Regions from separate parts of the Homo sapiens genome. Here all the other regions are reported to be linked to region 2. The links are microRNA targets in miRTarBase. Many come from high-throughput screens and were not tested one by one. Region 2 holds a microRNA gene; each other region holds the end of a gene's coding sequence.

What was found. Region 2 holds the annotated microRNA hsa-miR-4776-3p (CUUGCCAUCCUGGUCCACUGCAU, at 4,438-4,460, shown strand). A microRNA usually pairs through its seed, bases 2 to 8, with sites in the 3' UTR of a target mRNA and lowers its output. Matches are read on the target gene's strand: a 7mer-m8 pairs with bases 2 to 8, a 7mer-A1 pairs with bases 2 to 7 and ends in A, and an 8mer does both.
Region 1: miRTarBase lists MOB3B as a target of hsa-miR-4776-3p. Seed matches in the 3' UTR shown: 7mer-A1 at 3,246-3,252 and 7mer-A1 at 5,699-5,705.
Region 3: miRTarBase lists CLMN as a target of hsa-miR-4776-3p. Seed matches in the 3' UTR shown: 7mer-A1 at 2,095-2,101.
Region 4: miRTarBase lists SALL1 as a target of hsa-miR-4776-3p. Seed matches in the 3' UTR shown: 7mer-m8 at 1,359-1,365.

What each region holds. Positions count from the first base shown.
Region 1 is chr9:27,324,499-27,331,660 of GRCh38, reverse strand. MOB3B (MOB kinase activator 3B) reads left to right here. Exons shown (of 4, transcript NM_024761.5): 4 at 1,045-6,452. The coding sequence ends at 1,074. Among named protein-coding and RNA genes, the nearest start is that of EQTN, 31 kb to the right of the region's middle.
Region 2 is chr2:212,921,873-212,929,034 of GRCh38, forward strand. MIR4776-1 (microRNA 4776-1) reads left to right here and starts at 4,385; the gene lies at 4,385-4,464. MIR4776-2 (microRNA 4776-2) reads right to left here and starts at 4,464; the gene lies at 4,385-4,464. RefSeq lists an enhancer at 6,896-7,162.
Region 3 is chr14:95,185,798-95,192,797 of GRCh38, forward strand. It overlaps CLMN (calmin), which reads right to left. Exons shown (of 13, transcript NM_024734.4): 13 at 1-5,935. The coding sequence ends at 5,767. Among named protein-coding and RNA genes, the nearest start is that of DICER1-AS1, 32 kb to the left of the region's middle.
Region 4 is chr16:51,131,014-51,138,175 of GRCh38, reverse strand. It overlaps SALL1 (spalt like transcription factor 1), which reads left to right. Exons shown (of 3, transcript NM_002968.3): 3 at 624-2,194. The coding sequence ends at 1,064. It overlaps LOC105371253, which reads left to right and starts at 2,285. Exons shown (of 2, transcript XM_017023963.3): 1 at 2,285-3,000; 2 at 3,371-4,428. The coding sequence starts at 2,955. The coding sequence ends at 3,975.

The DNA of each region.
Region 1 (7,162 bases), not on the chromosome of region 2:
GCCTGCTCCTCAGACCATCCTTGGAGATGAAAGAGGAGCCACTACCCTGGCACAGTGCCAGGGGCAGGGGCTACAAAGATGAAAGCACATGGGGCGATTCAATGAGTGCTTCTTTTTCCTGGCACTTAGTAGCGCCCAGTCTAGCAGGGCCAACAGACATGTCCAGAGCCCCAGTACACACACACACACACAGAGATGTACAAATTCATACACTGCATGTAAGAATCAATGTGTGCACAGGAGGAGAGAGTGGCTACCTCCACAGCGAGTGGGGCAGGAGTGCGGGAAGGTCTCCCAGCAGGTAAAAGTCACCTTACCTGAGGTGGAAAAATGAGTGGCAATTTGACAAATGAAGAGGGGCAGGCGCAGGATGTGGTAGCAGCGGACCATAGGCATGGGACTCAACCTGTGCGGAGCCCCAGGGGTAGAGAAAGGATGGCTATTCGGGATCTATAAATACCCACAAGAGCCAGGCAGGTGACGCATGTCAGACACTTTGGTGTATTATTCATTTCTATTTTTAAAAATGTCCTCCTTCCTGCTTTTCTTGACTTATACCCACTTATCCTTTATTTTTCCATCTTTGATTGAAACTTAAATCTTTCCCTACTCGAAGAAAACTAGCAGTCCAAATCCAATTACTGTATCAGTTCATAAGTGCTACATGGCTCCTGCTGGGAAGTCAGGTGGGAGTGGCAAGGACTGGGGCAAACTGGAGAGCAAATTCTTCTGCTGAAGAGGACAGCCATTCTTCAACTCCAGTTGTTCAGAAGCTCCAAATCTTGCAATTTCTCAGAAAAAGCAAGCAAGCAACCTGAATTTTGATACATGAGTCAAATTTTTAAACAGTGCCTTAATGGAAAAAAAAAATTCTGCAGAACAAACAGATGGAACATACCCTCATGCTAAGCCTTATTCATGGACCATGCTTGCAAGCTTTCATTTACAGGCTCTCGAGATTCCAAGAGCATTTTCAGGATCCTTCACCAAATCGTTGCTCTGCTTATAGTTTCTCCTAACCATCCTTTTCCCCTTGCTTTCCAGAAAGAAATGACGAGCAGGATGTGTCACTAATGCTCCACCTCACCCTTTGGAAGAAAGGAAAGCTGTTTCCTCCTGGTGCCCTGAGCGGGCAGGAGGTGGACCACCCTGGCTGAAATGACACACCTACTCCCAGGAACAGCAGAGGTGGAGGCAAGCAGTGACTCCTGAGAGACATTCCCCACTCACTTTGTGTGCTCTTAACCTTCTGAGTGCTGCTAGCCCAGACCTGTGGACGAGGCAGACCACAACGTGAAAGAAGGACCAGCCCCTTGACCGTTCTGGCTGGGGAATTGTCCACGAGGAAGCCTCTGCACTTCCACACATGGCACAGTTCTGCCTGTGACCTGCCGCCTAAGCTTTACTGGAATTCAGGTTTTGAGACTGAGATGCGTGTTCGTATTTTTCCACTTATCTGTCTTGTCAGCTGGCCGACTTCTCTGTGATTGGTTTTTTAAGTGCCGGGTGAATTTTGGACCTCTGGATGTGCAGCAAGTTTTTATGCAATAAGCCTTCCTTTCAGGTCTCTAAAAGCTCCTGCTCTGATCTGTGGTTTAACACTGTGCAGGGCTGTGGAGCTCTGAGACACCTGAACCCCTACCCATCCCCTGCACCTCCCTACTCTCCCTGCCGAGGCGTCCATAGCATTTCCCTAATAAATAGTTTTATCAGGGACACTCCATGGGGTGGCTTGTCTCTGCCCCAAACAGGGTCTTCACGTTCTAACTGCAGGGAAGAGACTGGTTACTAGCGTAAAGCTGACAAGTTACCAGTTCACCTGATCAGAATGTATTTTTTATAACCACCATCATTCCTTGTCTCTTCAGTGGAAGATATTCTTTCCTGTTTCCCAGAAGAGAGAAATAAAAGTCCTAAATAACTAAGAATGATCAGCGGGAGCGTTGGGCATGATTACTGCAGTGTTTGTTCTTTATTAAAGACAGGGAGTCGTGGCTGTCTCTACATAATACTAACATTTCAGTGAAAAAAGTACAATTGGTTATTTGGTACGTGTAGATTTAACACCCAGACGGCTGACTTGTAACCCTCCCCACTAGCCTTCTGAGCATTTAAACCCAGCCGTCATTCTCTCCCCACTCCACGCTCCCCACTCCTCTGCCACGTTATGTTACGGCACAAAATTAATTTCTGCCCCTGTGATTGGGCCACGGTTGCCAAGGTAACAGTGGAGCTGGAGCTAACTTCCTTCTTTCATCCTTTCCAATTTTTCTATTCCAGAAGACAGTCAGAATAATGCATTCTGTACTACATCCTGCCTTTTGAAACCTAAATGAGTTTTCGTTGATGAAATGTTGCCTTCTCTGATTCATTCACAAAACTGTGGTGGTTCTGACCACCTGTGACGAGGGGGGTCATAATACTTCCAGTGATCCTTTTAATTTAGCAAAATATTTGTCGGTGGAGGGAAGTAGATAAGAATGTATTAGTGTATTTTAAAGTAATAATGATTAAAGAATAACTAAATGACTCTGATTTTGTTTTATCAATCATAATGTGTTAAAGCCCTCTGTGGCTGCCACAAAAGACTAGAATCATGAAATCTTTGTCCAAGCTAAGAAAGGGCTGTCTCTGTGGGTACAGTGGCATTCTCTGTTGACCTAACCAAGCAGCCTGAACCTTGCTTTGTGTCTCGTAAAGGTCATCTCACGGAATCCAATTGCTGCTACCTCACCATGTTGCTGTGCCCTGGTCAACAATAAACATACTTTTGTCCCCCTTCCTAAGTAACTTTGAGAGGACAAGATAGGCAAAGTTTTTTCCCTACATCTCTTTTGGCCAAAAGAATATCTGACCATCACAGAGATCCAGAGAACAGAAACAAGAGCCCCTAAGTCCCAGCCTCTGCAATACACAGTTACCAGATGGGAATGCAGCACAGTGGCACAGAGAGGTAACTACGGAGCCCATGCCCTGGAGGAACTCTGTAGCTGTGCATCATGGAACGCCACAGGATTTTTACATTAAAAAGTTGAATATGTTCCTGCATTTCAGCAGTGCATAATCGAGCAGGAGGCTGGAATCTGGAGACCTTTGTTATTCATTCTTTTTAAGGTTATTTTTTATTAACTGTGCATATGAAATTTCCACTCAATTTAAAAATCCAAATCTTTTTAAGCTTCTTGGAAGAATTTCCTCCTGCTTATATTGTTAATTGCACTAATGAACTCTTCTAGGGTAAATTCTGGCAAACTACCCTTTTTTTTTTTTTAATCACAGAATATTCCTGTTCCCACAGAACTTTGGCACATTCTGAAGAAAATCTCTGCAGTCAATTTTTATCTCCTCTGCTTGACTGCATCTAACTGTTCATCTCTGTTATAAATGGAGCTTCAGCCCTCTGGGTCAGAGACTGACAACCCTCCTTCTTCTTCCTAACCTGTCCTACTCTCCTTCTTTTTCTGCTTTCATTTTAATTTTGGGAAATTTTAAAGTAAAAGTTTCAAAGTTGAAAGATTATAGTGAGTACCCTTATGTCCTTTAGTGCATCAGTTGTTAATGTTTTGCCTTGTTTTCTTTTCTTCCTTTTTTTTTTTTAAGAGAAGGGGTCTCTCCCTATTTTACCCAAGCTGGCCTTGAACCCCTTGCCTCAAGTGAGCTTCAACCTTAGCCTCCTGAGTAGCCAGGACTATGGCATGTACCACCGCACCTGCCTCACATTTTCTTTCTCACTGTAAATACACATTCTTATTCTTGAACCTTCTGAAAATAAGTTGCAGACATCATGAAAATGTAAAATACTTCATCATATTCTTTCTTTTAATAAGAGCATTGTCCTATAAATCTGCAATATTTTCACGCCCATGAAACTGAACACTGATACTGCATAAATCTAATATATGATCCATATTCAAAATTCTCCAGTTGTCCCCAAAATATCCTTTATAGCTGTTTATTTTTAAATCCAGGATCCAATCAAGAATTATACGTTATATGTAGTTGTCATTCTCTTTTGTTTCCTTTAATTGATTAGAGTTGCCCTTTTGTGTGTGTCTGAGTGGTGGGTGGTGGGGTGGTGTTTGTGTATGATGTGCAGTGTGTGTGTGTGTGGTGTGTCTTTCATGACACTGACATTATTAAAGAGTTCAGGCAAGTTTGTGGAATGTCCCACAATCTAGACTTTTTTACTGATTGTTTCCTCATTACGAGATACAGGTTACATTTTTTTTCCCAAGACTGCTACATGTGTGATGTTGTTTCCTTACTACTGCCTCACCTCAGGAAGCACATAATGTCTACTTGTCTCTTTTCTGATATTAGGACTGATCAGGTGTTGTCTGCCTGATCCAATCATTATCAAGTTCCATAATTCATTATTAAGCTCTGAAATTCAGGACACATACATTTATAGAGTGTGAGGCTGTGCATACGTACATTCATCCCTTAATGTTCTCAAGGAGGCCCAGGATCCCCAAAATATTATAAGCATTGCAGTCAGATGATATAGCACTAGCAAAGCATTCATCCCTTTCCATATAACAGGAGGGAGGGGAAGAAGGAAGTTTCCATGTGCAGGCAATACGTGAGAGCATGGGCAAGTGAGGATTTGTATGCTCCCTGTAGCCAGAGGTGAAATATTCAACGCTTTTATTTTTTCTCCCGTCTTCAATGACCTCCCATTTGGACCCATAGTTTATTTATAGAGAGCACACACTCCCTAATTGTCAGATGGTTTTTTTGGGAAAACTCTTAGATAGTACAGTGAGTTGTGACCCTCCAAAGGATCACAAGTACATAAACAGATACAAAGTATTTATGTGGTATTAAAATTTCATGGTGATGGTGCAAGGGAGAGATGATTAGGAAGAAAATGTCTTACACGGCTGTAATTGAGAAATACTGATCTAGAGTCATTTCCTGCTTCTTAAATTGTTCGTTTTCTCTTCCCTGGGTATTTTCTCATTTCCAAAGACCCAGAGTCTCAGAGCCAGGTTAAGTGGAAGAAACTTTGAGAGGTTTCTTAATCAATTCCTTCTATCTCTCAAACCATGCCAGTAACTTCCTTGGTGAAAAAATCTATACTCCTCTCACAGTTCTTCGGGCATGGAAATTCTATAGCATTCTTTGGTATAACCAACCCACTGAACCCTCCACAACATCTTGAATTCCATTCAACTCGAGCTGAAGTATTCTTTTTGAGTTTCAGTATATCTTTTCTAGTGTCCCACTTTTAGAAAGGTCCAAAGATGATATATAATAAGTGAAAATACAATTAATCAGAGCTTTATTTGCATATCCATTAAATATCTGAAGGCTATTACCAGTTGTGCTTCAGCCTCCTTTCCCTTGCAATTCTCCCAGGGTGGCATCCTCTACGGAGTCTTGTTGCTCCATTGTTGACCACTGATGTAACTCAACGTGAAACCTTCCCAAAGCTCTCCACATCACTCTCTGTTATGGCTGTGACCAGCAGTGAACATGAAAAGAACTTATTTCATGCCTTCTCCAAACTATATTGTTTCTTTGCTAAGTCCAGACCTGCTTTTTCTACATTTATAGGTTTTCTATTTTAATCGCCATGCAAAATTCTTTATCATACTCAATCATTTTGGTTTATCTTCCTGACTTCTTACCTTTAACATCCCTGTTAAAGATTACACTGTTGTTGTTTCAAAAAAAAAAAAAAAAAAACCTTAATTGGCAAAACATTAAGGGACTTGAATAGAATTACACTTATCTTTTTGTGCTGATTTATGTCAATCCATCATTCTGGTTATTGATGGAAGCAAATTGCTTCCTATGTTCTCTAAACCTTATGTCCCTTCCATACTCCATGAGTACCACACTGGGAGAAAACAAAAGCAAAAAGATTGTGGGAAAAGTATAGCCATTATCTTTGAGGAAATGTGTACCAAGGCACAATCATTAAAAGGAGTTGGAGGCATCATTTGGTTGACACTGTTGTCATTCTTGTTCTGATCATTTTGGACCTTGAAGAAATTGGTGATTCTCTCCTAGAATTAGACAAACAAAGTGTGTTTGGAAATAATGATTGTTTTCCTGCCTTAAAAAATATATTAACAGAAAGCTTTTATAACAGGCTGTTTCCCTCTGGACAGGTATTAATTCTGAGTAAGAATTTTCAGTGACTACATAAGGATTTGTGTAACTTATGAAGGAAGAGTCCATTTCTAATCAAATAATTCGCCTGTTTTACTAGCTTATAGTGATCTGATTTCAGAATTTTCCTGTATCTTTTTTACATACATCAGAAAAAGAAATGTTTACTATATTTTTGGTTCCATTTATGATTGTATTAAGCATTTGACTATAAGGAAAACTAACAATTAAATCAATTAGAAAAGCAACATAAAATTAAATGATATTTAGGAAATCAGTTATATGTGAGCTTGGGTATTCAAATGTCACAAATAAAAAGCATATAACCATTATCTAGTCTGTCTTTTTTTAATGCTTGGTTCATTTCTTTAATAAATAGGTTGTCTTGCAATGGTCCTAGAACAGGTAAATAAAAGGAAAGCTGTTAATTCTACAAAAACCAATTCAAAGTTCATTTGAAAACACATGGGTGGCTGGCAAGATGGCCAAATAGGAACAGCTCCGGTCTGCAACTCCCAGCGAGATCAATGCAGAAGGCGAGTTATTTCTGCATTTCCAACTGAGGTCCCCAGCTCATTTCACTGGGACTGGTTAGACAGTGGGTGCAGCACATGGAGGGCAAGCCAAAGCAGGGTGGGGTGTCGTCTCACCTAGGAAGTGCAAGGGGTCAGGGAACTCCCCTAGCCAAGGGAAGCCATGAAGGACTGTGTCGTGAAGAATGGTGCACTCCAGCCCAGATACTACGCTTTTCCCATGGCCTTCACAACTGGCAGACCAGGAGATTCCCTTGGGTGCCTTCACCATGAGGGCCCTGGGTTTCAAGCACAAAACTGGGCAGCCGTTTGGGCAGACACCGAGCTAGCTCCAGTAGTTTTTTTTCATACCCCAGTGGCACCTGGAATACCAGTGAGACCAAACCATTCACTCCCCTGGAAAGGGGGCTGAAGCCAGGGAGCCAAGTGGTCTAGCTCAGTGGATCCCACCCCCATGGAGTCCAGCAAGCTAAGATCCCCTGGCTTGAAATTCTCACTGCCAGCACAGC
Region 2 (7,162 bases):
TACATATTAATACACATGATGAATAGTAGAGAGAAACAGGAAGATTTGAATTAGTCATTTCTAGGTTTTTTTATTACATCATATTTTTATATACAGTCAAATGTGCTGTAATGCCCACACATTAATGACATAATTTTAAAAAATTAATGAGGATGAAATATGCCTATAACCCTCTCAGGAAATCTACATTTCACTATGTCTTCAGGATTCACTTCCTTTACAAAGTCTTCCCAGATAAGACACTCATCCAATGAGAAAGGTCTTTCTTTACCTTCCATGAAGTCTTTGTCATTTACACAGTCTGAGGTCTGTTTCCTGTATTGCTTTACTCTTGTCTTGGGGTTTTCTTTGTTTGTTTGTTTCCTAATTTCCCAATTATATTTCTTGTTTTCTAAAGTTAGAAGCTTGCTTTTCAAAGATTCCATGGCTTCTAGGATGGCACTGGACCCATAGATGACTCTTCCAAAATATTATTGATTTAATGAATATTGCATAAGAAGATGCATTCTAGAACAAATTAGCAAGTAAGAATGCAGGTCTGTCATTTACTGGGATGTAGGCAATCAGTTCCTGACTTTGTAGGCCATTACGAGGTTTAGAACTCAACTATGTTCTTTTAACCCGTATAATAAATGACAAATTTTAAATTAGGAAAGCAAAGTGAATTTTTCTTTTGAAAAAAAAAAAAACAAAAACAAAATTACCTTCCTTTGGAAATCATTATGAAAAGTTGTGTCTGTAAAGTATGTTACCTTTAAAGACAAAGAAAAAATACAACCAAATAATATGTTACTAGATCATCAATGGGTTTTTACCTGTTCACTAAGTAAATTTTAAAAGAATGAATGAATAACTTTGAATGATTCACAGCAAATTTCTTGCTCAATATTATGAAAATATTTTGTTTAAAAATGCAGTTGATAAGAATGTATTTCTTTTGAGAAACTCCAATGTATTAAAAACATGAAGTTAAGATAGAACTTTCAGTACCTTTAGAGATTGCGATATTAAGATTTTGTGCTTCATCAAATGCTGTGAATCATCAATGTCGTTTGCTGATTGGTATTTCTGGCTCACAATTCCTCTGGTTCACAGCAATTGCTCTTGAAAAAATAAGAAGTCTTTTAATTTTAGATAACACCAAAAAGAGAAGGTTTCAGTTTTAAGAAGTCCCATTGGGATGATAGAAAGCATTGTATGGAGAACTGAAAATGGTCAACCCCTTGAAAATGATCAGTATTCTGTGGTTTTGGACCTTAGTTGAAAATGACATAATCATATTTTCCTGGTCTTATAATGCTCCCTTACCTGAGCAAACTTGCAAGGATAGGAGAGGAAGTCAATGCCCCCACTTTGACCCTTATTCAAACCTCAAGGTTTCAGGAATTCCCAAAGATTTAGAGTAGAAGTACACTGTGCCCTGCACACAGTAGGTACTTCAACGTTTATGTCACACTTTAATCATCAAGCACAATCACAGGACTCCAACTAATGCTTCCCTCAGTGCAGCCCAAGGCACATTCAGCAATCTCACTCAGAACAACCAGGAGAGATACTTAACACAATGTATGCCCTTAGGAAAAAAAAGTAGAATAGCATTATCAAAGGCTCTGATTTCTAGATACAGGTGTGCTCTGACTTTTTCATGCTTTCCTTTTTCTCTCTGAAATATGGGAATAATACCCCCTGTCACTGAGCCACTGGAATGTTGAGGAGACAATGAGTTAGCATTGGAAAACAATTCAGGGTGAAAGGTGCGGATGTGAGCTCAAGGTATTTGTTAATGTTATTACTCAATCCATTCTGGCCCAGTGTGGAAACAAAAGCAACTTTTATTACAAATAACACAACATTGTTAAAATAACCTTAGGAAAGAGAGAATAAATGAATCTACCAAGATAAATAGATAGCAGCTGGGTTATTGAGACCTCATGTTGAGGTTACAGGCTTTTAACACTAAATGCAATGTTCTTTTAATTTTCAAGTAAGAATCATTTGGTGAAAAAAGTAGGTAACCTATTAGTGCCTGTCTATAAAAGAGTGAGGACTTAGATTTCTAAATGCATACTAACAAGTATATTTATAAAGACAGATTTTATTACCTGATTGTATAAAGCAGAAGTCTCCTTTAACAGATTAAAAGAAGAGGTGGGTGGAATATGCTAACAAACAAAGGTCCATGTGTGAATCGGGGGATATTCAGGACTTAACTAGACTTCAGCAGACTCATTTAGGATCTTAAACACTGTCCCAAGTCCAAAATTCACATTTAAGCTGAGAGCAGCTAGGACTTTACTATCTATCTATGGTTTAAGTTGTCTTCCACTCGGCTTGTAAAGCCTAGAGTGTCACTGTTTCTGCCCACAGATAGCTGTCAATCTTGGCCCATAAGGAGATGGAACCATAGGAAATGTTTCATCTCCACTCCCAGCACTTCTTTCCATATAAAAAGATTTCCACTAGCACAGCAGTCCTGACATCTCTGTTCTCAGGAGAAGAGGGAATCATTTAATGTTATTGAGTCCCTTTACCTCCTCATTCTCTTGAGAGCTATGTGCATAGAGAAAGCATACTTTCTGCTCTGCTATTTCAGACCCTACATTTTAGAGTACATTGTCTAATGTTGGAAATAAGGTAGGTAAGTCTCTCTAAATCTGAGATTCAGTGATAGTAAGGCGATCCTCCAAAATCAACTTTAACAATGATAAAATTGATAATTTCCTCTCTATCTATCTTACTCTGTTTTTCAATGACTCAGACTCAGCTGGAGAAGAGAGATGTTCCCTCTCTTGAGCTCACTAAAGACATTCAACAACATGTAATACAATGGGTGGGACATTTGTCTTTTCCAGGCCAAGGAAAAGGAAAACAAACTTAGGTCCCCAAAGACTTAGGATAAAATATCACAGATATAAACTTAGCAAAGTTGAACTCAGCTGTTAGAAAATGGAATTGGATTAGTTTCCTGTGGCTGCTATAACAAATCACCACAAACTCAATGGCTTAAAACCACATAAACTTATCCTCTCACAGTTCTAGGGGACAAAACTCCAAAATCAGTTTCACTAGGCCTACATCCAGGAGTTAGCCAGGCCATGCTCCCTCTGGGAACTCTAAGAGAGAATCTGGCCTTTCCTCTTCCTGCTCATGGGACTGCCAGCACTTCTTGGCTTGTGGCTGCATCACTCCCATCTGCCTCCCTGATCACATTGCCTTCTCCTCGTTGTCAGCTCTCCCTCTGCCTCTCTCTCATAAGGATATACGTGACTGCATCTAGGGCCCATTCTAATAAGCTGTGATAACCTCTTCATCACAATATCCTTAACTTAATCATACCTATAAAGACCTTAAATTTTTAATGTTTTAATTGTTTTTAATTTAAAAATGTCTTTTCTTAGGTTCCTACAGACAGAAACCTTTTTTCTGTATCAGGTAGTATTTACAGATTCTAAGGATTAGGACCTGACGTCCTCGGGGGACTATTTTTCCACATGAGTTCAATAGTCTTGAATAAATATCATTTATATCTCTTTTCTTCTTTTCTCTATGTTCTGAAATTTTACAATTTAAGATGCAAAAATATGTGGTCTAATATCATAGTTTTAGAGAATTAAGAAGGTAAATTCATCCTAGAGTTTGGATCAAACAAATAATATTTAGAAGGAATATATCATAAGGTGATAACTTTGTATGTCGGTATATATGTAAGTGTGGGTGTGTGTAAATCATTAAATTTCCATATATATACCATATAATTTTCTACCTGAAATGTTGTGAGTTAAATCAAAAAATGTAAATTATTCCTACATATCATTAATATTATAAATTCAGGACCATAGTTATTTATATATTTATTTTTAAAATTCTGGTTGAAGCATTTGGTGAAACAGTTCCAGAATTGAGTTTTTTATTCTTTCTATATGTGGAGCATATGGTAAAATTATTCCTATTTCTAATATGAGTTTGGTATTTTATTGTTAAACTCTAGAAAACAACCACCTTTTAGCCAAGAACCTTTGCCCTCTAAGACACACTCAATTGTATTTTACTTTTGCTACCAACATTTAGGGGTTAGTTTACTTTGTGTTATCATATTCCACCAATATTCAAAAGATTTATCACTTGGCAAGAGTTACTGATGACACTCCATGAGTAGGAAACCTCAAATCTTGGTGAAGGGCAGGCACTGAGCTTCTGCTAAGCACTCTCACTAGCTAAGAAACTTGTGCTACATACTACATGTGCCCTGTTTCAGTTAGGACAGGCTATGATATCGTAACAAATAGACCGCCAAATTCAGCTTCTCATGTTTGAGGGAAAAACACATCTATCTCTCTTTTGGACAACAGTCCAGGATGAGGGTTCCAGGTCAGTGGGAGCTCGGCTATATGCAGTGGACCAGGATGGCAAGGGCTCTCCTGAAAGGACAGTAGAGCCCTTGCCATCCTGGTCCACTGCATATAGTCTGCTCCATCTCAGGAAGCCAGAAGGTAGAAGGGGATGCAAAAACACAGCAGTGCAAGAGCTCTAGTATGTGGCCACACAGAATTGCAATGGAGACTGGGAAGTATAGTCTAGCTGTGTGCTCAGGAAGAAGAGGAGAAGGGATTTTGGTAAACAGCTGGCAGTCTTTGCTGCATGCATTATTTCTGCCTCAGCAAAATAAAAGTTGACTATGTAAAACAGAGGTCATGTGTGTAGAGGTCATTGTGTATACCCTTGGGATATACACAAGCATTCAAACCAATGAATAGTGAGAATTTATTCTACCCAAGCAACTATTTATGCCGAATATTCAGAAGGGGAGGGGAGCAGGAAAGAAATGGTTTATTTTCTTTAAATTATTGAAAATATTAGCTTATATCAATTTTCTCAAGTGATGAAAATGCAGGGGTTAAGCCTTTATTTTTTTTTTAAAGTAAATATTAGTATTATGTAGTATATGTTAAGAAGGTTTTTTTCTCTTCATTTCTTAATCTATTGAGGGAAGGACTAGGCAAATGAAGTTAGGCTTCTTTTCTCAGGGGGCCTAACTGTTGGCCCAGGCTGGGTTCCAAGAACTAATACAAGGAATGGTAACTGGTGGGGTTGTCTTTTTGCTGAATGAAGAGAAGAAAAGAAGAATTCCAAGTCTGTTTCCCAGGCACAGGAAGGACCAGGAAGCAAGGAAACTTCCAATTTTCAAGTCCACTGAGCAGAATACAAGAACAGGGTCCAAAACAAAGAGTTCTCCGTTGAGAACCGGCAAGATGGAGCAAGCAAGTCCTGCAGGCAGGCTGGGCCTGGAGAGGCGCCAAGAGGCCACAGCACTCTTGGGAGGAGGTTTTTCTGGACTCTTGAGGAGCTGAGACTTTTATATTCCAACCCTGCCTTTAATTTGAGGTTTGCCTCCTCCCTCCATTTGCAGAAGAGTAATCCGAAGCTAAATCATTCATAACATGAGAATGCTGATCTGTGTCCAGCCCTTGTGAAGGGAAAAGAAAACAAAACTTCACAAACATAATTAGTAGAACTACCTATAAAACCTAATGTTAAAAGAGAAATTAGCTTTCATGGAGAGAAAGTGTGATGGCATGACACAGAAATTAAGTGCACTGAATTTAGATTTGAAAAGAGTTTGATTCAATTCATGTCCCTGCTTCCCAGTAGTCCGTGACCTTGGGCAAGTGACCTATACTCTCTAAATCTTAGTTTCCTTATCTGTAAGATGGGAGATGAAAATAATACCTAATTCATATTTTTTAAGAACTTAATGAAAGAATGTTCAAATGTATCTAATAAGGTATAGGAACTCAACACATGCCAGTTAAACAAATTTCTAATAATTGACTTTCTTATTTCTTCCTTTCTGGGTAAAACAACTGTCCTTTGTATACTTTCATTTTTTGGAGACAGAGTCTCACTCTGTCTTTTTTTGGAGACAGAGACTCACTCTGTCATCCAGGCTGAAGTGCAGTGGTACGATCTCGGCTCACTACAACCTCTGCCTCCCAGTTTAAACAATTCTCCTGCCTCAGCCTCTCGAGTAGCTGGACTAGGACTACAGGCGGGAGCCATCATGCCTGGCTGGTTTTTTTTGTATCTAAGTAGAAATGGGGTTTCACCATGCTGCCCAGGCTGGTCTTGAACTCCTGAGCTCAGGCAATCCACCTGCTTCAGCCTCTCAAAGTGCTAGGATTACAGGCGTGAGCCACTGCACCCGGCCTGCCCCTTGTATACATAAAAAACAATCAATCAAATCTTCCTCCATGACCCCTTAAGCACTATTGAGTAAAGGTGGGATCTTAAGTTGTGACAACTGATATATGTAAAATGTCAATTTAAGAACATCTCCTTTCAGACATGAGTATTTCCCTGCAAACTTAGGTTTATGTCTAAGATCTTAAGGAAATAAATACTATAAAAAGACATAGTTCAAATAATGTATTAATAGAAAAAAGGTCCATAGGAATATCTCAGTGTTTTCTTTTATATGAGATGTATCATATGCTAAGAATATACAATTCTCTAGAATTTATTATTTTTCAAAGTATTCTTTGAGAGGCCATCTCTCCTGTTATTACTTTGTCCAGGTAAGTGGGAATTTCATTCGTGAGGACTCCAAGTCCTATCTATGGAGTCCATTATCACTGGGCATGCCAGTACATCTTCTGGCAAACTGTGACAACAGTCTTCATTGGCAACCGAGAGAACAAAAGAGGATTTTTCTAAAGGTGATGAGGCAGAAAAGGGAAGCAGATGGCCCTGAGGAACACGGAGAAATGTCAAGGGAATTGGCCTCTCTTCTTGGCACTTTGAGGCCTGGCCATGAGGGGTATGTGCCTGTTCATTCCCTCACGAAAAGCGGAGAAGGAAGGATCTAGCCGATTGCACACTAAAGATAACTTGGAAAAGGAACTTGACAGTCCTAGGGAAGAGGAGTTGCAACATAAACTGGAAAGCAGATGAAATCCACTGGTGTGATGAAATTAAAGAGACTTCCCAAATATGCTGGGAAAATCAGTGGAATTTTCAAACCATTGCAAAGTTGTTTCATAAGAATTAGATTAACTAATATTAACTTGTTTCTGGTATGTGTCCAGTACTATGCTAAGTTTGACATGCTTTGCTTCAGTTAATACTCAATCTAGCCCTAAGGGGTAGGCACTAATATTGTCCCCAT
Region 3 (7,000 bases), not on the chromosome of region 2:
CTCCAGAGGCTTCTGAAGTCCTTCTGGAGAGTTAAGAAAATCGGAGCTCATGTGAAAGCATTCTTGTCATACAACTGCCTTCCAATGGCATGACCACGGAAGGAGAACAGCTCCTCACCAAAGCAGCCATGATGGATTCTGACATTTTCGTAAGACACATCTGTACTTGCTAATTCTGACTTTTGTTGGAGAGATGAGCTCCATGGTGTTCTGAGTCCCTAGCGATGGTGGGTAGGGAGGTTAGCTTCAGCAGCTGAGGCTGTGGTTTTGTAGTAAACTTAACTGGGAATGAAGATGGCTATCTGGAGGTCATCAACTAGCAGGGCGACTAGTCGTTTCCTCTTTCTAATCTTCAGTTTTTCATCTCTTAAATGAGGCACTGAACGCTTACATAATTCCTGAGGTTTTCGAACAGTCTGTGACTTACAGAGATCAACAACACAGGCTGCCCCCAGTGCCTCTGCCTTCCCTCTGTTCCATCCTGATAAAGAGCAGGCATGCACTGCATGGGAAGAGGGTGGGGGGAACTATGCTGAACCTCAGAAATGGAGACGCCCATGTTCTGGGTGGCTGCCCGAGGGGCAGCAAGAGTGTCCTGCTTCTGAGCCTTGGTGGGAGAACATCTCCCCACAAAGGTCAGGTCTGACCAGGAAGCCCCGACCACCTGATCATCAACTATGGCAAGATACAAACTTCGACGAGGCAATGTTGGCCACGTTCAACAGAGAATCCGCGCTGTTTGTTTGCTGGCAAACACCTGTGTGGACTACTTGTTTCTTTATTTTTGAGACAGCGTCTCGCTCTGTCACTCAGGTGGAGTAAAATAGCAGGATCATAGCTCACAGTAACCTCAAAGTCATGGGCTCAAACAATTCTCCTGCCTCATCCTCCTGAGTAGCTGGGACTATAAGTGTATGCCACCACTAATTTAAATTTAACTTTTTGTAGAGATGGAGTCTTGCTATGTTGTGCAGGCTGGTCTTGAATTCCTGGCCTCAAGCGATCCTCCTGCCTTGGCCTCCCAAAGGGCTGGGATTATAGGTGTGAGCCACTACTGTGCCTAGCCAGTTTTCTGTTTCTTAAGTGAAGCAAGGGTGGTAAAGAAAACCTAGAACCCAGACCACCACATAGACTATATCTTTGGGGAGGCAGGAGATCTAAGATCATTTACTGACAATAGGCAGCAAAACCAGGGGGAAGGAAGGAAGGTAATAACTAATCATGGCATTCAAGCAGAGCTTAGCCATGCTATGTATCCCTCTCCTGCACTTGGCACAGCATTACACAAAATCACTTAGCAGACCACAGCTCAACAGGATGGATGTTGCTGCAGTCCCAGCTGGACTCAGGGCACGTTCACAAACCAGTCAGAGCAGCAAGCCCCCTAAGCAACCTGTGAGATAACTCAAATGGGGTTTATGGATCAAGATGGTATACTGAACACATGAGCCTGTTTCTTCCCTCATGAAACCCCATGAAAATAGGAGCAGAGGAATGAAAGTTATATTAATACAACCATGAACACAGAATACAGAAGAGAACAGTAAGCAAGAGCTAGCAACCTATTTATGCAGGAATGGAACTGATGGAAAAGTGAGCAGGGAGGGGGATCCTAAAACCACATGCCTGCAGAGGGGAGGCCACAGAGTGGTCAGCAGAGATGCCCTGTGGCCTCCAGGAGAGGCTTGGGGATTGGAATAGGAGGGATGGGGTGAGACATGGGGCTGAAGACCAGGGCATTTATTGGCTCTGAGGTCCCCTGTCCTTCCCATGCAGCCAGATGACCACTGTGCTCCTACTCCATGGAGAAATCAGAGCAGCTCCAACTCAGGGACACCAGGCACAGCAAAGGTTGAAGCAACTTAATGAAAGTCTAAATACTCACGGGTGATGAGGCTGCCTGCTCAGCGGTCAGGACTCGGGCACACTGAGTATAGACCAGGGTCTCTGGATATGGTCCTACAGTTGTGCATTGCACAGAGGCACTTGGCTAAAGAGGGCAATTAGGAGTTAAAATCTAGCCTTTTCATTGTTCCTCGAGCATTGTCCAAGCTCAGAGCTGGGTATGTCTGGAGGAAGGGGCAAAAGGTGTCCTTTGCCAGTCAAGCCAAGTGCTCATGGGGACTTCTGCCCAGATGGGACACCATTTTTGAAACCACATGAGTACTCAGCATAGGCTAAAAGCCCTGTGTATGCCCGTTTCCCAGGAAGGAGAGTAGTGGGAATATCTCTCAAGAAACAGAATGAGCCCCAGAGAAAACACGTGCAAATACTGACAGGCAGTGTTCTCCAATGATGAGTCCAGGTGCCCACCTGGTGACCCTAGTGGAAAAGCTCACCAGTTGGCACACACAACTTCCAATCAGCTTTTGGATGCCTCACTCTTAAAACATGAACAGATCCATAGGATCACCATATATTTGAGAAAAATTCACAACGTGAAAGATAGAGACTGAGACCACCAAAATAAAGAGAACTCAGAGAAAATGAGGGCAACACAGGGAGCAGAAAAGACTTCCCCTCAGACCACAATCATTAACGTCCACAGAGAGACAAAATCTGCATCCACGCATCAAGAGCAGGACACTGTAAAACAAAGACAGGATAATAACCAAAGGTTTTATTAACTTGGAAAATAAAAATTCAATAAAACATTCAGATTGGGAAGATAAAAATGAATAATTCTTCCTGAAAGCAGATCAGAAACATAGACGAAAAATAGAAAAGATAAAAAATATTAGAGCATCAGCCTGGGTGTAGGGGAGGGTCCAACATTGAAATAATAGGTGGTCCAGAAAGAAAGAATGTAAATAATCACAAGAAAATTTAAGAAATTTCCCATGAAGGCCCAGCACAAGGTTTAACACCCGGGATACAACACCATCATGACAGTTCAGAACACCAAGAATAAAGAGATCTTAAATGTTTCCAGGAAGGGTGGATAAAAAAACCTAAGTCACATATAAAGGTACGGGAATCAGAATGGCATCAGAAATCTCAACCAGCACGCTTGGGAGGGGCTAGGGGAGGGTATTATTTTCCACCTGTCATTCTATGCTCAGCCACATTTCTGTTAAGGGCAGAATACAGACATCTTAAGTCATGCAAAAATCTCAAAATATTTACAACCATATTTACTTCCCATGTTCTCTTCCTCAGGAAGTTATTAAAGAATGTGCCACACCAAAAAAAAAAAAAAAGTAAAGAGAGAGAATAGCAAATTAATGGGGACATTTGGAGGAGAAAGGACATGTAACCATAACACACTGCTGGGCTTGGGAGTCAACAATCCTTAAGTGCTCCAGGTAATGTCAACACCTAATAGAAATGTACTAAATGATGTGATCTAGCTATACTGGAAAACCAAAGCACGGTATGGTAAGAGTGAAATCCTCCTCTACTGTGACAGCAAGCCAGTAGATGTTTCTAAATTAAAAAATAAAGTGTAAGCACGTTATGTAGAAATGCAAACATAAGAGAGTTGAAAGTGGTTACTTCTAAGCAGCGAGACTTAGGGGACTGCTAGTTCTTGTTAAAAGCCTTATTGTATTTCTTTTAATTTAAAAAAAATTTACAAGCAATGGGGTGGTTTGTCCTGCAGACTTCCACATCCATTTTCTATATCCAGCTTCTTCCATAGAAGCCTATACTCAAATGAGATTTTTTTTTCCTTTGCAAAATATCAGTTGACTGCCAACCTGAACCAAATGACTTTCAGGCATCTTGCCAGTAGATGTTTTAAACAATATTACAAGTTGTAATAGGTGAGAGAAGTATCTTGCAGAGGTTTTTCTGAACAAGGTCTAGACCCATAAAATGAAATGATTCACATTTGGGTTGGCTCTTCCCAGGCTCTTCGAGCATCTAATTTAGGCAAGGACTGCATGGTGCCCAGAGTTATAAACTATCACATAATCTTTATTATCTGTACCTTTGAGCTTTCATTGATGCCAGGGAGCTCATTAATTAGCTCATTTTCCATGGGGCTCTTGGCCTTCCAGATGGAATCACTCCAAGCTCCCAGCAGCTTTCTGGTTGGAAGGCTGAAATTCTTTCAGGAGGGGAGACAGACTATAATCAGACTGGTTTAGAGGCCAGATTTTGGCTGTCATCGACTCAGATGTGCTATGTAAATTCTTCTGGCCATGCTGGAATTCTGTAAACTTGAAACCCACTGCTTGAAATGAGCAAGTCCTTGGCTAGCAAAGAAAGAAACGTGATTCCTGGAGTAAGAGCGACGCTGGTATGTCAAATGACAAGCTGTTGCAGCTGTCAAGGGTATTTCAGAAGGAATTGGGGATGAGCTTGAAGGTGAGTAAGAATTCCTCATGGGAAAAATACAAGAACAAAACAAATGTCGATAGTTGGTCTAAACTTTTTGGTTTTGCTTGAATGTGGACATTTTAATCTAGTCATTTTATCTTTTTCTCAGGACATTGGTGTGCCCAGTGGAAGTTTCCTACAAGGGGTGACAGCTCTGGACAGGGCATCAGGTGCCTGTGTGCTCACTGCAAGTCTGCCCCTGGTCGGCTATATGATCTTGGTCAAGCTGCTCTGTCTCTCTGGGTCCAGCTAGACAAGATGCTCACTGAGTCCCCTCCTGACTCATTTGTGATTTTATAAGGGTTGCCTGGTACATGCTTTCTGAAGGGGAGAGCAAGGGGAGGAGGAACCAATGCAGAGACTCACCACGGACCTGAGTCTTGGCAGGGAGGAGAGAGCAGAGGGAGCCTGGGGCTGAGGAAGACTGGGGGCAGGGGTGCTAGAGATGCCTCTCTTCTTTCACAAACCTCCTGTGCTGGCCTGCTCCCGGAGTGCTGTCCAGAAAGCCTCTTCAAGAAACCCATTACAAGTGACCACAAAGAATGCCCGTTCCAAGACATGCATTCTGAGGGAGGTGTGCACCAAAGCTTTAGTGGGCAGGAAGCTACCCCACCACCCAGCTCCAGCACTGCTGGGAGCTGATTCCAGCCCAGCCACTCCTCATGGCTTTTATATGGCCCTGCTGGGCCCTGGCGATCTGGTTTGAAAATCATGGTTCTATCTCAATCCAATCAATGGAAAACTGAATTTCAAGTGTTATCTCCCCTCAAACAAAAAACAAAACAAAAAAACAACAAAAAAAACAGGGTGAAAAAGAGCACACAGTGGCTCTCAACACAGCTTTCACCTTCCTCCCTGGATTCTGCCATTCCTGGATGTGCTTACACAGAGCTGGCTGCTCGGATTTCCCCTAGTGAATGCAACCAGTTACCGGACTGCGACAGGTGCATGGACCCCAGCACCTTCTCTCAAACACCCACGCTTGGAGGAAAACGTGGCAGCTCTCTCCCCAGCTGGGGCTTGGCCTGGGGTGCCCACCCTCTTTCTCATTAAGCAGCCCTTCATCTGAGAGGTAAGAAACTCAAGTTCATCCAGCGTGTGAACCTGCAATGTGGGGTGTGCTAAGATCCAGGCGGGCTAATGATCACTAACAATGCTCCCTATCCAACCCAGCAAGGCACACAAGGACAAAACCCCACCTACGGATCCAGCTGCATGCCTGAGTTTTGAGTACACAGCCAAAGAAAAAAGCATGCTCAGGTTGTCCAGAAAAAAAAGGAAACCTGAAAAAAAAAAAAAAACCACAATAGCGAGAAAGGGGGTCTAAGTTTCCTCGGAGGTCCTCAACTGTCTGTAGAAGTGCCCCACCCAGAACCCAAAATAAAATGAAGTAACCCCGCCCCTGGTCAGGGTCCTGTCTTTTTTATTATCCAGACACACGTATCAGAGCCTGCTAACATCCAGTTGTGGGAAGAGCAGCAAGCAGTACACCAGGAGCCACAGGAAGAGAATAAAATACATCATATCCGGCTGCTGGACAAGCTGTGTCAGGGAGTCACTCTGCGGGCTGTGGCTCCCCAGTGACATGGCTTCTCCTGAGCTGTTGGCCTTCCTACAGAAGAAACACAGAGGAAACGCAGTTACCAAGCAGGTTCCCAGGAAAGTGGACCCCACCCAGTGCTACCCGTCTCTCCCCGGCCCCCACTCCCCGCCTGAAGACCCGAAGGCTCCCCAGCACCATGTCCAGGTAGGCCCCACACTGTGTGTACTGGCCCAAGGCAGTGCGTCGGGCCATCCAGGCAGCCCCTCGAGCTTTTGCACGTACTCCGTTCATCTCCATAACATCAGGTGAGAGGAGGTGGCAGCCCCATTCTGCAGATGGACACACTGAGGCTTTCGGGGTGGAGTGACTTGCCCAAGGCCATGCAATTAACTTGGCGACAGAGAGGGCGCCTAGGCCAGGTCTCCTGGGACACCTTTCTTGATGCCACAGTGCTCTCAGAGAGTGACACGGAGTTAGATACTGATCGCTTGCTGCTGTTTGTTAGTAACGCAGGGGACCCCATAGGTCATCTAAGGGATGAAGTGTCCCTAATAGCAGATCATTTTAAATCATCTATCAGAAAGAAACAAAGACCTCTCCCATTCCCCACAGTTTTGTTTTGGCTTTGGAATATTACCTTTAAAATAATTACTAGATTTGATTTCAGTCAGATTTACCTTCCTGCTTTTATTTTATAGGTGGTAGTGTTAAAATGTCATTTCAGTTTTGCCTGGCGGATCATAGGGAAGCCCAGAAGGTTTTGCCTGGGGCTGGGGCCTCTGCTTGGAGCTGCATGTAGAGAAGCCTGCAGTGTAAGCCTCTTAGGGTGGTTTCGTGCGGTGTAATGGAGATTACGAGAGGCTAAAACCACTTGTCCCAGAACTATCTCCTGATAGCAGGAGCGAGGGGCAGGGTGGGATTAAACATCTGCCACAGTCTACATACTGAATGATAAATACCCACATGATGGTCTTCTTTAAAAAGCTGTCCACAGAAACAAGTTAAACTATATACTTTTTATAGAGACACGGTCTCTCTGTGTTGCCCAGGCTAGTCTCAAACTCCTGGCCTCAAGCAGTCCTCCCTCCTTGGCCTCCCAAAGTGCTGGGATTACAGGCGTGAGCCACCATGCGC
Region 4 (7,162 bases), not on the chromosome of region 2:
TTTCCTACTGATATGTGTTGGAAATAAAGCAAATATGCTTAAGTTCTAGAGCAACAGTTGAGTGCTCTTAGTGTGTACATTTTTCTGTTGACAGAGTATTTCTCTGGAGATTGCTCCCAGTAATGTGAGATGAATAATTACTTTCTGGCTTTTCTCTCCATACGCAGGCCCTCCAATGGGCAATCAGGGAGGGATACCTTCTCCCCATCTGAAAAGGACATTTATAGGGTAAAGGGTGTCAGATACAATACTTACCATTGCAATGAGAGTGGACCTAACAATTCTAACCCTGAAAGGAGCTATCCGCCACTGCCTGGCTTGCTTGAGGCCATTATAAGCTAAATATGGTTAATAAAAAAAGAGTAAGTAAGGCATCCTTGCCTTGGAAGAGGGGAGACAGCCCAGGGCTGCAGAGAGTGAACACGTTATTACTAGACAGGAGGAATGGATGGTTCCTGTTGCCTTCACTGTCTGTCACATGATGAGAATAGACATTTAGGCCACTTGCTTTGTGGACATTTGGGATATGAGTTGAGACAGATTCAGCTATTAAGCTTCTCTCCCCCTCCTCTTTTTTTTCTCTCTCTCTCTCTGTCTCTCTGCCTGCCCTCCCCATATCTCAGGTACACATGGGCACTCACATGTGGAATAGCACCCCTGCACGACGGGGTCGGCGGCTCTCTGTGGATGGCCCCATGACATTTCTAGGAGGCAATCCCGTCAAGTTCCCAGAAATGTTCCAGAAGGATTTGGCGGCAAGATCAGGAAGTGGGGATCCTTCCAGCTTCTGGAATCAGTATGCAGCAGCGCTCTCCAACGGGCTGGCGATGAAGGCCAACGAGATCTCCGTCATTCAGAACGGTGGCATCCCTCCAATTCCTGGAAGCCTCGGCAGTGGGAACAGCTCACCTGTTAGTGGGCTGACGGGAAACCTGGAGAGGCTCCAGAACTCAGAGCCCAATGCTCCCCTGGCCGGCCTGGAGAAAATGGCAAGCAGTGAGAACGGAACCAACTTCCGCTTCACCCGCTTCGTGGAGGACAGCAAGGAGATCGTCACGAGTTAAAGCAGCTCGGGCTGGAGACATAGCATTCATTCCTGTTCAGAATGCGACCTATGGTGGCCTCCTACTCCTTGCCCCCCACCCCGCCCCGCCCCTTCCTTCTGTTCCCCAGATCTATGAACTACAACATTATGAAGACATTCTTTTGTACCTTGTTCAACTTTAGAGTTCTAAGAAAGCTTATTTATTAGCGATATAACCTTGCTTTGCAAACAGAATGCAAGCGTTAACTTTGGTCTTCTGTATTTTGGACTAAATACTAATTGACTAGAGTGCTGTAAACTTGCTGTAACATTTATGGCAATTGCAAGTTGCCCTGCTAGGCAGTTGTAATCTGGCATTAACTTATTTTCTATATCCAGTTTAATATGAATCTGGTGTTGATGCAATGCCTCAGTGATGCATTAGATCTCTAATAAAGTCTGTATATACATGTACACTTTGATCCTGCTGGAAAATTTTATCAGCAAACACATTGTCTAATCTTTCAAAACAGATTTAAGGAAAGGACTGAAAGTACAGACTGAACAGTGTGGTTCTTTGAAAGGTTTGGTTTTTTAATTTTTATTCTAAAATTCAACCTTTTTTTTTGTCGATTTAACCATTTCCATTTTGAACTGCTATTTGTATTGTGCTTTTTACTTGAGTCGTCTTCAATGTTAATAAGTTTCTGTACAGTAATAAGCACGCAGAATTCTTTAGAGAAAAAGAAAACAAGCGTTGTTTTGGTAGTTGAAACTGAGACGTAACATTTTGCCTTGTAGGTATATTCACGATAGAAAATGTGTGCTGGAATTTCACAATGCTGCTAAGTATAGCATCTTGAACAACCTTCAGTGGAGAAAATGTAGATGCTCTTGTATATACAATAAGAAATATCACTTTCATTCAAATGTACATATGTTCCTTACAAGAGCAAATGCTTCTTCTTGATCAAGAGAGCAGGTATAGTGTTTGTTTATTTTGTCTTAGGTATGGAAGAAAAAAATTGGACTGTTACATGCACTTTCTTGGAAAGTTGAAAGGAAAGGGGGGGTCCAATTTCTTTAACATTTAATACTTACTAACAACAGAGATACTGTAATTTTACTCAAGTAATCAAATACATTTTTTTTGCAACAGATAAAACAAAATACTGTGTCTGTGTTTTTAGAGTGCATTTCCATTTAGCCAGGCCCCAAATGCGTTTTAACATTTCCCCAGGCAGCAGTCAATTGTGTATGTGAGTGTGTATCCCTCTTTAAATGAGGAATTGTAAAAGGCATAACAAACGGCTTTGCATGGGCCTGCGTTTTCTTTTATTTTGAAATTTGGAGGCCCTAGATATTTTCCCAGTATCTATGATTTATTTAGGAATGGATTTTATAGACTCCACTCGCTACCCACCCCACCCCCAAGAAAAGCAAAACAACGAAATGACATAAAAAGATGTTGTTGGAGGTTTTAACCCAACAGGTAAGTTTCTTTTAAGCAAGATATTTATGCCGATTTAGATTTCACTTTTACTATTCTGGTTTTATTTCACTTAATGCAGTCACGTTTTTTCAGGCAGCTGAGAGCCACATTGCTGGGGAGTTCCTGATGCTGCGGGGTTATATAATCTGACTTAAACTGGGCCTCAACCCAGAGAGGTCAACATGTTCTTTATTTAATTGGTCTTTTAGGCATTTAAACGCACATGCATATTTGAAAGAAAAAGTCTATTAGAAAGGTTATGTAGAGTCAGCTTGAATATTTCATCAAGCAAATTCAAATGGATTCTTCCCCTCTCCCTGTTGTTCTGGGGCGGAGGGGGGAACAGGCTTTCTTCCTCCTGAGCACTGTTTTGAGGTGAGCAAACGGACTGAAGGGAAGCTGTGTCCAGAGGGGTCGCCGATTTTTTTTTTTTTTTTAATGTTTCAGGGAGCTGGTGAACCGCGCATCCGGCGGTTGTGCCCAGGTAAGGTAGAAAGCGTCGGGCCGCTTCCTGCAGAAGTTTCCACCAGGGCGCGGGCCACTCGGGTCCGCACTCCCCCGACCCTGTCGTTAGACTCTGTGCCGAGGGGGCGCCCTCAACCCCTGCTCGGCCTCCGGGTCCGGGTCCGGGTCCGGGTCCGGCGTTCCAGAAGGTGGGCGCTGACCTGGGCCGGGAGAGTTCAGGGGAGGGGGTGGGAGCCCCCAAAGCCAGAGAGGGCGGCGGGGGGGGCAGGGGAGAGGGTTGCGCGACGTCGTGATTGATGCTGAGAATCACCCCGAAGGCTTGGCACCCGAACATTTAGAGGGACAGATTTCTCGCTCTCCTCTCTCCTGTCCCGTCCCCTCCGCTCCAGGAGTGACATTTTTTCCCCAAGAGTGGGGACACGGATTGAAGGCCGGAGTTCCAGCCAGAACTCTGGTTCTGCGCGGGCCAGATGGAGCTGTTTCCGTTGCACAGACGACGTCCACAACTTCCCATCGCTGGGCGTGGCGAGGAGGGGCTGCCCCGGGCTGCGCGCCCTTTACGCCCAGGGACAGGGCCTGGGGACATCTGAGGGAAGTGATCCGGGGGGCTGCCGCCCACCGAGAGGGGCAGGCTTCGACAGCGCCACCCTGCCGCACATGCCCGGCGCCTCGCCGGCCCTCTCCAAAGGTGTCCAGGGGCTGCGCCGCGACACTTTCCACCGAGCGTCTGCCAGCAGCTGGACCCCGCTCTCCAATGGCCGCCGCCGCCAAGTCCCCGGGGCTCCCGCACTCCGGGCCGGGCGCGAAGGTCACCGCCCTGCACCACCTTGGGCTGCGCGTCCATTTCCAAGAGGCAGGCAGTGGGGAGAGGGGAGCGGGGGCGCTGTGTTCCCTTTCCCTCTCATCACTAACCTCCCACCTTCCAGCGGTTTCTGAAAGTGAGTTAAGGGGAGCAAAAGTCACTTCTCTTTCCGGAGCCATCAGAAGAGTTTAGGAAAAGGTCAGAGGGTCTCTCTGTCTCTCCGTCTCTTTCTCTCCAACCCCCTCCTCTCTCTCTCTCTCTCTCTTTTTCTCTCTCTGTGTCTCCTTTTGTCCCTGCCTATCCATTTATTGATTGACTATCTTTCTAATCTATTGATTATTACCTGCCCATTCATTCCCCTTTCCATCCATTTCCAAAATAAGAAATCGCCCTCTGCCCTGCTTCTCCTCCCAGTGTGAAAAATACACTCAGCCTTTGGGCTCGGCCCGCAGAACAGAACTGGATTTACATTTACAAAGCAACAGGGTTGAGGTGAAGGCAGCTGACGGGCGCGCACCCCCTCCTCACCTACTCCCCGACCCTTGCCCCGCTACGCCTCACTAGAGGTGCCTCGTGGTGGTATTGAAATCACCGAGAACCGAATTCACTGAATTAAGGAAGGATTGTTGCTGCAACTAAGTTCACAGAATTGTTTAGCTAAAAATATTCACTTTGGTGACAGTTTCCCCAGCTTTTTTTTTTAAAAAGGGGGGAATTGTAAAAATACAGAACAGCCCAGAGAAGAATTTAAGAAACGCTTTGTGTCTATCACTCAAAATTTACAAACGTTAGGAATTTGTAGTTTATTCGAGGTTTTTTGTTGTTTTTGTTCCCCCCACCCCTCCCCAGGAACTGCGTTTCCTGTTCTTCCTCTCTGCCTGGGTAGCTGTCATTCTCTCATTCTCTCTATCTTTCCTTCCTTATATTCCGTCGTGCTTTTTCTTTCTTCCTTCTCCCGTCATCTCCACTACCCTCCCTTTTCCACCCACCCCCCCGCCACGGGCTTCCTTCTTCCTGGAAAATATACTTGGAAGAGCAGTTTGGTGATTGACAGGGACCTGGGGAGGGGAAAAAAAGAGAGAGAGAACCAATGACAAACCCAAGCTGCTCGAGATGACCCCTCCCTCCCTCCCTCCCCCCCCACCCCCACCCCCGGTCTGGGTTGGGGAAGGGTGGGTAGCGTAAGGGAGGGGTCCTGCAGATCAGCTGGAGATACCTGAAGCTGGCTTTGCGCTTTGAGTTTTTACATCCCAATCTTCACAGGCCAGGTCTATTCAAATGGCTTTTTAGGGAGTGGAGGGAGGGCATTTTTTTTTTTTAATTACAAGAAAAAAATGTCTTCAAACAGAAAATTCTTAATGATTTGCAGTTGACATAAATTTCTAGCAGTAGATTATTTGCTTATTGTTTTTGGCATGTCGTGAATGTCAAGAATGAGAGAGCAAAAAAAAAAAAAAAAGCTCCTACTCTGTTAAAACTTAGCAGTCCTGTTAGAAAAATAAAGCAATGGATTATTTGCTAGGAGTTACACACTCCATCCCAAATGAAACAAATGTCAGAGTGGGTAACAAAGTGGAAAAAAGTATAAAGTGAATTTCAAAGGGCTCCACAGTAAAGCGCAATCTGAGATTCACAGAAAAGTAGAGACGGATAAGACAGGAATTAGGTCATCTCGTCCAGACCCCAGGAAATATGTCTAGATCAAAGCCTGCTCTGTTAGAATAAACAAAACAGGACCCATTGGGCCCTACCAATATTTTCATCTCAGTGCTAAGAGCTGCTAATCTAACCAGCTCTATTTGATGAAAGGGAGTAAAAATTACAACTGTAAAAATGACGACGTAATAAATGTCCTCTCAACTCTTAGAGGAAGATAAAGATTTAGATTTGAGCTAAAAAGTAACAAGATCCAGGCCCAGATCAACACAAACTTCCTGGAATTTTAGCACTAAGTAAATTATCTAATCCTAGCCATTGTTCCCTCCCTGCTGCCACCCCTCACCCCCACCCATCCCGTGTACCCCATGCAATTGAGTATGCCAGATGATTTACATTAAAAATTTGTTAAATTTTAACTGCAGTCTGAGGACATTGCAGGGGGCCTTTGGGGTTCCCTTCTTTTGCATTCCTTAAAGACCCACCGGTTTTCTGTCCCCCACCAACCCCAATGTGGCCTGCCCCCCTGGCAGTTGTTGGGGTAGCAGGCTGGACTTCTTTGTGTGGATGCTTTGTTTAAGCCCAGTCTTAAAGTTTGGGCTCTTTTTCCACCGTGAAGGGCAGATGGACAGAGGCCTGGCACGTGTGTCCCATCAGCCTGGCTTGGGGTCCACACAGTTCGGCAGCTCATTGATATTTTCGCAGCTAAGCTGAAGTACTGTGTAAGTACTGGGTAAGACTTTCACCGCCGACTTGATGGCCTTCAACCAATGACCAGGGAACATTCGATAGATAGAAACATCTACAAAAAAGGACAGGAAATCCCAGAGAAGGAAAATTGGACCAGGCTAAATCCCGGGTTGTAGTTCCTTACTGAGCCTGGCTTCCTCTTAACTGTTTAAACATAGGACTTGGCTCCTCTCATGTTTCTGTGTCCATCTGAGCTCAAGTTGAACAAAGACTCATCGGCCGCATGTCAACCTGGCTCCAGTGCTTTCTGAAGCTAGGGACGATGACAACGGGGGTGGCAAGTGTGACTGGCCTTTCCGAACGCCACCAGGAACAGACTGTTTTCTGTGTGTGGCCCCTGGCTGCTCACCTCGCCAAGGGCAATTCCAGGATCAGATTTTTACTTACATTCTGCGGAGGGCTTTGAAGACAAGTGAAACTGCATTGGAGGCCACACACAAGTCGATCCTTCCTTATAAGACCCAGAGTGGGACCTAGTCCAGCTGCACCAGGCATAGCTGAATCCTGACACAGTGCAGTCTGTTAGGTCATGGATGCCTGGAGACCAGGAGGTCACATCATCTTCTCATCCCAACTACATTCAGGATGAGGTCCTGGAAGTCACCTGGAAACAAGGGTAAACATGTAAACATGGTAGACCCCACTCCTGAGATTAGGGCCAGACAAAACATAACTATACTAATCAGCCTGCAGACCTGCTTCTGTATTCAGAATTTGGAATTCTCCATGTCTCATCTTGCTTGTCATCGTAACAATCCACTTAACAGATGACAAAACTAAGGCCCTGAGAGCAGAGAAGGAACATTTGGACACCAGGAGACCTGGAGCTATCACTAGCCTGAATGCCAACTTTGGGCATTTGGCAATCATTGCCTGATCAATGGTACCATTCCCCAAACTGTACCATGAGAGGTTAGACTTCCATCAATAGGCTCCAGTAGCTTCCTTCAAACTCTTGCCATGTTTATAACTA